3 linked regions of the Homo sapiens genome follow. The protein of the gene in region 1 purifies or fractionates together with the protein of each later gene. This does not show direct contact. Each region holds a gene or a part of one and is shown on either strand. Other genes may lie near its edges. The genes, in order: FAM117B, TSC22D2 and TSC22D3.

Evidence for each region.
Region 2: the proteins of FAM117B (region 1) and TSC22D2 purify together in Homo sapiens (affinity purification with mass spectrometry; 2 studies listed by BioGRID and IntAct, with this or other methods). This does not show direct contact.
Region 3: the proteins of FAM117B (region 1) and TSC22D3 purify together in Homo sapiens (affinity purification with mass spectrometry; 2 studies listed by BioGRID and IntAct, with this or other methods). This does not show direct contact.

What each region holds. Positions count from the first base shown.
Region 1 is NC_000002.12:202,763,873-202,767,174, reverse strand, and holds part of FAM117B (protein FAM117B), read right to left. Parts: intron 1,730-3,302; coding exon 1,411-1,729; 3' UTR 1-1,410.
Region 2 is NC_000003.12:150,460,261-150,463,730, reverse strand, and holds part of TSC22D2 (TSC22 domain family protein 2), read right to left. Parts: 3' UTR 1-3,470. UniProt on the Homo sapiens protein: Reduces the level of nuclear PKM isoform M2 which results in repression of cyclin CCND1 transcription and reduced cell growth.
Region 3 is NC_000023.11:107,769,132-107,772,789, forward strand, and holds part of TSC22D3 (TSC22 domain family protein 3), read right to left. Parts: intron 1-3,658. UniProt on the Homo sapiens protein: Protects T-cells from IL2 deprivation-induced apoptosis through the inhibition of FOXO3A transcriptional activity that leads to the down-regulation of the pro-apoptotic factor BCL2L11.

The sequences.
Region 1 (3,302 bases):
AAAAAAAAAAAAAAAAAGCTGCTCCTTAATCTCACTACCACATACCCAGAAATCACATACTGATGTCATGTGATACTGGCAGTGATTTATATTAGGATGAGCCCTAATCCAAAACTGTATGGAGTTTTCAAAGGTGCTTATCGTTCATACTCAAGTTCTTCTTGTGTATTTTCCCCACTATGTGAAGCGTTAGGGGGGTAAATTAGCAAAATCTGTAGGCAACAAATCTCAGGGCCAACCACCACCACAAAGAAAAATGTCAGTCACAGGATTCTGCGGCTACAGTTTGGATCACTATCCACTGGATTACACTCCTGGCAAACTACTAGCCCAACCAAATCCACAAGACAACAACATCACAAGGGCAAAGGAGGAAATCCATGCACAGCCATTTCAGGATCTCTTTGGGGCTATGATACAGTGATGATTAAAGGTAGAATGACACCTGTGGTAAAGGAGGGAGAGCGTGTGATATATATATATATCACAGAAAACCAAAGGGGCTCCTTACTCTTAGCTAGCAATCAACGCTGGATAGCTTCCTTTTGGCTCACTGACTTTTAAATCAAGTTCCAATATGGGTGAGAACATATTAAAGCACTTGTCTTCAGACTACAACTTTTCTGACCACATGGTGAAATGTGTACAGGAGTAGTGAAGAAAACAGCAGTTATACAAATATTTCACCCAAAGCACAAACTTTTGACATCAAAAACATAAATCACATAATGTACGAATATTGCTTTTTAATCTCTTTTTATATATACTTGTTCAATGCATTTACCTATCAATCCTTGTTTGGGAGAAGAACATAGTCATGAGATTAAGATTGCTGGGAAAACGTCAACAATCCCTTTGGTCCCAAAGCTGAAAACAGCTGAGAAAAGCACACATCTAGAAAGGGAACAAGAAACAGAGGCCACCAAAGAATCTTTTGAATATCCTGTTTGCTACGTTTCAGAAAATGTAACATTGGTATATTATAAAATAGTCATTTTCATAGAAAAGATGGTTCTTGCAGCATCAGTCACATCTCCCTTTAGGAATCATGTTGGCAAGGATCAGGGGTGTGTGTGTGTGTGTGTGTGTGTGTGTGTGTGTGTGTGTGTGTGTTTTAAAGAAGTCTAATTCGAAAACAAAAACGTGATATTGTCTCTCCAAAGGTAAAGAATGAGACCTTTCTTGTTTCAATCAGTGCTTTGATAAAAAGCAGGCTAAGCACTGAGGGTTGGCGTTCACAAGTGGGGCAGAGCCGTCACGGGGGATCCTTTCTTCCAGAAGCCTCGCCGTCACATGTCACTGGAAAGCTGGAGCACATCACAGCCGACCAGAAGCGCACGATGCCATCAGAATCCAGTGATCTGAGGAGGTTCCCAATTTCCCAGAACAACAGCCACGTTGCACTGTGACCTATCCTTCAGCTTCCTCAATTGGTTCTGGTGGTGGGAGTAGAGAAGCTGATGGCATGACTGTACTTGTTCCTCGAGAGACTCGGTCTTGCTCTGTGTTTGTAGACAGGGAGGCCACAGCAATAGGCTGCAGCAGAGTGGTTGTCATGCCAGTGGTGACTGTCAGGCTGTGGCCAGAGCCCTTGAGTGTAAGATCCGGGGTAGGAAGGAGTGGCTTGAGGATGCTGACGAGGCAGAAAGCAGATCCACTTTTAGGAATGAAATTCACCTTGTTTTTGTCAGGACAATAAAAGGCTGGGATTTCATGAAGCTGTTTTGGCCTAGACATAGAACAGACAACCCAATGCTTTTAAGTCACTGAACTTAAAAAATAAAAAAAAAAAAAAGCTTGGAAACAAGCTCTTTTATTTTTTAAAAACAGTTAACTTACATCACAGAAAAGGAATATAAAACTCAAGCTCTGTCCCCCACCTTCAAACATAAAGGACCAAAGTGCTATCTGACATATGATTCAACATATGTATCTTAGAATGCAAGAAGCCCCCATCATCATTGCTGCTTTCAGTTCCCTTGACAGCCCCATTACCATGCAGGTGGCTCAGCCCGATGAGCACTGCATGTCAATGATGAGCTAAGACGGTCAAGGGAATAATGAATTTCCTATAGCAAAAGAAAATCTAGATGTTTAAAGACATGTATGCCTTTATGTATGGTATATTCCACTGCCATGATTTTTCCGAGGTCTATAGTATACTGGAAGGAGACAGCAAGGAAATTAAAGATATACAATGTCCGTCTTTTGCTAAGTTCCACCACTGCATGACTAAAACTATGGTAGGCCTGGCTTTTCTCTTCAAGTGCTTGTAAAAATCTCTTTGATGGAAACAATTCTTTGAGTTAACCCTGATAGTTTTCTGAGCAATATAATGTAAATGTGAAATCAAAATGAAAACTCCTTTGCTTTGAAAGCTTTTTATTAAAGCCAAATCCTTCCCTTTTCCTAGGTCCTCCTGAAAATTAACCCAAATTGTTGAAAAAGATATTGGTATTAATGGTATTTCATGAAAATTAAAAGTATAAAAAAACTACATTGTTAAAGCAACACAGAAATGCCACAGAACTAAGGTGGGAGAACCTAAATAAATCAAGACTTAGGTTGATTCTCATCTCTTCCAATGACAATAAAAATCTAAATCAGCCAGCCATGGTGGTTCACACCTGTAATTTCAGCACTTTGGGAGTCTGAGCGGGGAGGCTTACTTGAACCCAGGAGTTCCAGACCAGCCTGGGCAACATAGTGAGACCTCGTCTTTATAAAAACCTTAAAAAAAAAAATAATCTAGTCTGACGGCATGCACCTGTAGTCCCTGCTACCTGGGAGGCTGAGGTGGGAGGATAGCTTGGCCCTGGGAGGTGGAGGTTGTACTGAGCCATAATCGGGCCACTGCACTCCAGCCTGGACAGCAGAGCAAGACCCTGTCTCACACACACACAAAAAATCTAAATCAGTTCAATAAAAATGCAAGTGTTCACTAAATTCTGAGGATACAAAGTTGAAACAATCCACAAGGAGGAGGTGGACTAAATTTATAGTTCTTGTGGGGTGAGGAGTGATGGGGACAGAGCTGTGTTTCAACATAACTAGCTTCCTTTATAATCTTGTGTATATGATGCATTTAAAACATTATTCAGAGAAGGGATCCACAAGCTTTACCACACAGACTGCCAAAGCTGTCCACAGCACAGAAGAGGTTAAGACCGCCACAAGAGAATCTAACAGGCATGATTACAGAGGTTTATAAAAAGGTTTACAGGTAGCACAAGGGGGTGGATAACCTGTGGCCTGTAGGAAGAGGGAGGGTTTGGTAGTAACCCTCTGAGCTGGGTTTTGAA
Region 2 (3,470 bases), on another chromosome or scaffold:
GGGCAAGCAAGAATGTCTGTGAACTTTAACTTGCTTCAGAGTGCCTCACTTAGCATTTTCATCTATGAACACAGCATGTCATACCAATTGTACTCCACAAAAGATATAGTTACAGTAGCACTTGTATAAAGTAATCCTTGCAACCTATGAAGGAAAGCCATACATTTAAAGGGATCTTGCTGTAGAAATTCTGTGAACTGGTACAGAAATACAGGACAAAGATGTATCCTGAAATATTGAAAAGGAGTAAATGGGGTGCAAGTATACATCACTAAATAATAAACTATTACTATTGCTAGAAAATAGAAATATGGATTATTAAGAGGCTTGAAGCAGAAGGAGGTGGGAGAAAAGGTCTGGTTTTGGATAGGCAGGAGACTTAGAAAAAAGAAGCCTGCAGGACTGACCTATGTCAAAGAATAAAAGGCTAAAGCCTAGCAAAACCTATTCTGCCTTGGGCTGTCAGTACCTACAGTGGGGGCCAGAACCTGTATTATCCTTTCCAGGGAGCAAGGAATAGATTTTAGGGAAAGGCTTTGGAATCAACATCCTAATCCTAGTCACCATAAAAGGATTCCATTTAGTTTACCTTTAGGGTAGAATTGAGAGACAGGCATAGTGACAGCAAAGGTTCCATTCCCCAACCCTTTTGTTAAATTCTTGAAATCCCTTTAAGGAAACAAAGACTTTCATTTCACAGATTTATAACTGTTGGAAGGAAAAGACCGAGTCAAACTTTCAAGTATGAGTTGGGACTCTTTAATCTTTTTTTGGAGGGACAAGAAAATAGGCAGCTGGGTGCGGTGGCTCACGCCTGTAATCCCAACACTTTGGGAGGCCCAGGCGGGCGGGGGAGATGACTTGAGGTCAGGAGTTCAAGACCAACCTGGCCAACATGGTGAAACCCTGTCTCTACTAAAAATACAAAAATTAGCCTGGCATGGTGGCACACGCCTGTAATCCCAGCTACTCAGGAGGCTGAGGCAGGAGAATCGCTTGAACCTGGGAGGCGGAGGTTGCAGTGAGCCGAGATCTTGCCACTGCACTCCAGCCTGAGCACAGCAAGACTCTGTCTCAAAAAAAAAAAAAAAGAAAAAAGAAAAAAAGAAAATAGGCACCTGATACCTGACACTGGGAATGGGATGTTCATTGTGGAGAGGAAAATGGTACAGAAAGACCCAAGACAAACTTCCTTCATGACCTTCACAAAATTGCCTATGTAATTTTGCCCTTTCATTTATTTTCCGGATTGTCATCCCTCCTAAATTATTTCTCAGCTTCCAGTTTCAGCTACTCTAACCTACCTCCCATCTGCCACTGGAATTGTGCACATCCAGCATAATTTGAGCATAGTATCCCATTGCTTAAAACCATTCAATAAATCATTCTTGCTTTCTGAATAGATGCCAAAATACTAGGTCAGTGGGGAAGTCACTGCCTGCCTGTCTCCAATGCAATTCTGTGGCTGCCCTAGGAGCCTTGTTTATACTTTTAAGCCATTGAGTTCTCTTTTCTTGTGCTTGGAACACCCTTCCCTCTGGCTCTTATGACCTTCAAGACTCAGGTGTCATGTTTTTGAGGAAACCTACCCTGACAAAACCATCCCTGACTGTACATAGTAACAAGTATTCCTCACTGCATTATCAGTTGGCTTATTATGTCCTCAAATTGTCAATTTTGAGGGCTGGGTTTTGTCCTTTTCATAGGATTATTAAAGAAATGTCACAAAGTGCTTGCCACTGAGCCATAAAGCTTCTTTTAAAAATGTGACTTCAAATCTTAAAAATTGTTTCCAGACAATTAGCTATTTCTGGTTCTGCAAAGATAAATTTTCAAGAACAGAGATATTCTGGTTCTATTAAGACTTTTTTTTTTTTTAAAAAAAGGTCCATGAATTACTGGAGTTTGCAACTTGGAGAAATATAATCATTCACCTGTGAAAATTCTTGTGAATAATGGCAGCTGTGATCCCCAGTCACTGGAGGCTTGATTATAAAACGTTATCTCAATACTTCTAATTAGCATAGGATATTATAAATAGAATTGGAAAAATTCAGCTATTTTGGACAATCAGGAGTTAAGGAAACTGTTTATTTAATGCCTCCTAACCCCTACTATTTGTTTTTGGTGTGGCAAGCTGTGAGATCACATCGGAACAAACTAAATTTTATTTGGGGAAAGTTAGGTTTGAATTGTAGACAATTACCGTATCAGAAAAATTTCTACTTATGATTTACCGGCTAAATTAAAACAGAAAAGCTTATGTGGGACCTTGCTCTATGGGCATTACACTGACAGAATTAGATAGATGGCATTCCTGTAAGACTGTGCCTCCAAATTGGGATCTCAATCAGTTAATATTTACAACTATTTGGAGCAGGAGACTAAATCTCCAAAGCTGAATTGGAAGTTACTTAAGATCCTAAACAATCAGCTGGGGGAAGGGTTGACAGTAGGGATAGTTTGGATTTTGAGGGGAGGGGATGATGGGAAAGCAGAGGGCAGACACCACAATAATTCTGCATTTTTGAACAATGGACCATGAGTTGAGTATCTTCTCCTGTCGTTACACTGGAAAGCTTATTATTTAAGGCTCTAGATACATACTGCCAAATTACTTTCTAAAAGTACACAGGAAAGCCTGTCTTTCTTTCTATGTTAAGTCCTGCTACTTAGGACACTTATTACAATTCGCCAAAAACATTAATTTGCATTTCTTAGGTTACTAGAGGTTGAACCTTTAGAAACTGCCATTTATCTCTTCTGTGAACTACCCATATTTTCTCTCCTTTTCTACTGTTTTTCTTAATATAAAAGTAGTAATAACTGCTGTTACCATTTTAAACCTTATTATTCATTTCCTTGGAGACTATTACTTTGTTTATGAAGTGTTTTTCCAGCCCCAGAATCAAAATGGAATCTATTTTCACAAAAATCCCATTTCTAAGACTAGTTTTTCTCCACCTGTATTAAATATCACATGTCACAGTTAGCACTGGAGGGGCACAGCCAGCAAACCTTTTCGGTTAACAGTCCAACAGTGAAGTTTCACATTCCATTAAGTATCTCACCTGTAGCAGCTCTACTTGGAATCTTACTACACATCCTTAGGGTTGCTTACTCAAGCCTATGTACTTAGTTCCTTGATTTATAATGTTATTCATTAACATTTTGTTCAATGTCTTGCAGCACAACTAGAATAGAAAATATTTGGCAATCTCATGTACATCCCAATTTTATGCCTTGTTTGTTTGTGGCTAATCTGATTAAATTTTTACTTCAAATAAGTCTTTTAACACGGAGAACTAACTACTGGTTCTCATTAACTCTGATTAGCTAGCTGGCTACAGATGCAGTGCATGTTAATTTCTACAGGCACCTTTCTGAATTCAAGTAAAAGTTTTGGTAGACAAGGATTTCCTACTTAAGTATCACTAACATAATATGAATATTGAGTACAAATATTGCTC
Region 3 (3,658 bases), on another chromosome or scaffold:
GCCACTCCTAGGTATATACCCCAAAGAATTAAAAGCAGGGACTTGAACAGATACTTGTACACCAGTGTTCATAGCAGCATTCTTCATAATAGCCAAAAGAGGGCAACAACCTAAGTGTCCACTGACAGATGAATGGATAAGCAAAAGAGGTATATCCATACAATGGAATTTTATTCAGCCATAAAAAGAATGAAGTACTGATATGTGCTACAACATGGATGAACTTTAAAACATGTTGAGTGAAAGAAATCAGACACAAAATATTGTATGATTCAATTTATATGAAATATCTAAATAGGCAAATCCATAGAGACAGAAAGTAGAATAGAGGTTACCAGGGGGTAGTGGGAGGGGAAAATAGGGAAACGGTGAGTTATTCTTTAATGGGTACAGAGTTTTTGTTTGGGATGATGACAAAATTTTGGGAATGATAATGGTTGCACAACATTGTTAATATACCTAATGCTACTGAATCGTACACTTAGAAATGGTTAAAATGGCAAATTTTATATCTATTTTACCACTATATATATATATGTACTATGTACAATATATGCATATAATACATCTCTCTCTTTCTCTTTCACACACACACACACACACACACACACACACTAGTAGATGTGGGGTAGGGCACCAGGCTCACTCATTGGTGAAAGGACCGGCCCCCACCTACTAGTCTCCTTGCACATGTGATTCACATCTGTGCCTCAGCAAAAACACAGTTTCTTACCAGTCTGAGTTCTCATGAAGTATCCAAACCATGAATGTTAAGTTTGCAAATGCATTTGTGCTTTTAATGGAGAAGGTCCCTTAATCCAAGAATGCCTATTCTTTGTCAGACCACTAGGCACTCAGGAAATAGTTATTTTAAATTACTTTGGGCTATGAAAGGACTTTTGAAGCTTGATACCAAAAGCAAAAATCACAAAGGCAAAGAATGACAGGCTTAACCACACAGAAACCCAAAACCGCTCTACAGCGAGTAACTCCATCCTCAAAATCAAATGGTAAATTAGTTGACAATGCGTTGCAATCTCTAATACAGGGTTTCTCACAGTGTGGTCTACATACCAGCGGTGCTCTGGGAGAGGAATTTTAGATGGTACATGGACAGAGAACTGAATCTTAAATAGTATGAACTTAGGCACTGCAGCAGGCAGCCACTCAAATCATGCCGTGTGAGTGGCCACCACCTCAGAAGCCAGGTCCAGGAATATACATTATGAAATTACTTGTTCTGAGACTCACTTAGAGAAGCACAAATAATTTTTTGCACAAATTTTTCTTGAAAACCTGATCTCTGAATCTATATCCTTCCCCTTTGTTACTATATTAATAGGGGATATTAAATGAATTAGCACACATAAAGCAATTAGAAATGTTTGCTATTTTTATCATTTTCTGAGCATTTATATATGGGAACCAGTTGGGGCCAGGTCAGAAGCTTAAAGGTAGAATCCTAGGGTTTTTAGAGCTGGAAGGGAAATCGGATTCAGAGTATTTCAGACCACACTAGCCAGGTACGCTCTGGGGTCAAAGGTAGAATAGAGCTGATTAAGAGGTTTTGGGTAAAATCTTAGAAAAAAATTTGAGGTTACAGCAACAGCAATCACAACGAATACTGTCAAAGCTCCTGTTACAGGTTGTTATACCTTACAGGTCAGAAAAATTAAGGAAGGCTCTTCAAATGTCAACTTGGGAAGCTTTTTCATATGCTACATTTAAATTGGAAACTTCTGCTGTTTGCCCAGAATATTCTATCTCCCTCCTAAGTTTTCCAGTATTAGAAGCATATTCAAATGACAAGGGGGAAGTCCCCTAACAACAGGGTGACCAACCATCCCAGTTTCCCTAGGACTGTTCCAGTTTGAGCACAGGCAGTCCTATGTCACAGGACTGGGATGGTTGGTTTCCCTACCTAATAAGGACATTTTGACCATTTGGAAAGGTTCTGAGCTCACATTTACCTCTGCTTCATAGACAATTCTTAAGTGTTACAAGAATTTCTTTAGCATTAGTTTAGTTACTGAGTGTTCTTAACAATTCTTTCTTCATAGACAATTCAGGCTCTGCTCTTCATTGTGAGGCATTGGGCAAGATACTTAATTTTTTCCAAGCCTCAATTTCCTTCTTTATAAAATGAAAATGGATGATAATAGTACCCATTTGGTCGGGCGCAGTGGCTCATGCCTGTAATCCCAGCACCTTGGGAGGCCGAGGCTGGTGGATCATTTGAGATCAGGAGATCGAGACCAGCCTGACTAATATGGTGAAACCCCATCTCTACGAAAAATACAAAAATTAGCCGAGTGTGGTGGCGTGCGCCTGTAGTCCCAGCTACTGAGGAGGCTGAGACAGGGGAATTGCTTGAACCCAGGAGGTGGAGACTGCAGTGAGCTGAGATCGTGCCACTGCACTCCAGCCTGGGCGACAGAACAAGACTCCGTCTCAAAATAAATAAATAAATAAACAAATAAATAAATAAATCCATTCCAAAGAGTTGATGTAAATATTAAATTAGATTATGCAGGTACATTGTGAATGTTCAAGAAGTGTTAGTTATTAATCTGTTATGGTTATTAGTTACATAATACAAGATTGAAAGGATGGTGTTTAAAATACACTTCTTCCCCAACCCAATTGTTTACAGGTACCATTTACATACCAACAGGCTGCATGCCCATTCTCACTGATTCGTATGTATATACACAGCACTATCAGGACTTCCATCAGGCTATGAGAGTTACTGCATGTGGTTAAAACGGAAGGAAAACAACTTTTAAACATTAATAAGGATTTTCTAGCACAGTATAAAGTTGTAAAATCTTTACAAGGGACCACGTCAATATTTAAGTAGTCATCCAACTGAAGAAACCTTTATTGAATATTGGCTGTATAACTAAAAGCCAAGGGAAAACCAAGCAAGTAAAACACAGCCCTACCCTCAAATTGCTTATACTCTTGTGTTCCAAGGAAACCAAGAACGAAGCTGGGAGCCAGGGACAGGTCAAAGCAGACAAACCAGATGTAAATCAAGAATGTGCCCTGCTCTTCTTCCTAAAAATATAGGAGCCCTCTTGGCAAAGGAATGGACTGCAGGAGGAGGGGTGGGAGACTAGCTTCTCCAGCAGGAGAGGCCTTGAAAGTTGACAAAGGAAAAAAGCACCCAACAGGAACCTGAAATGTCAAATCATTAAATTGAATAGAAGTAAAAACGATGGCTGAAGTATGATGATAGAAACCCAGGGAATTTAATGAAGTAACAAGGGATATGTTCACTTAGGAGAAGGCTGTCTACCCCAGATATTGGAGAAGCCCCATGACCAGCAATAATGGTCTTCTAGTTTGCTAATGAGCATGTCATACTGGGCAAAACCTAAACCGAATTCAGAATCCCCAGTCTCTAAGGTCCCAATTGTCAAGGAAAACAAGAGGGGATCAGTGGCTCATGCCTGTGATCCTGGCACTTTGGGAGGCTGAGGTGGGCAGGTCGCTTAAGCCCAGGAGTTTGAGACCAGCCTGCACAACATGGCAAGATCCCGTCCCTATAAAAAAAAAATACAAAAATTAGCTGGGCATGGTGGTGTGTGCCTGTAGTCCCAGCTACTTGGGAGGCTGAAGTGGGAGGATCGATGGAGCCCAGGAGTTTGAGGCT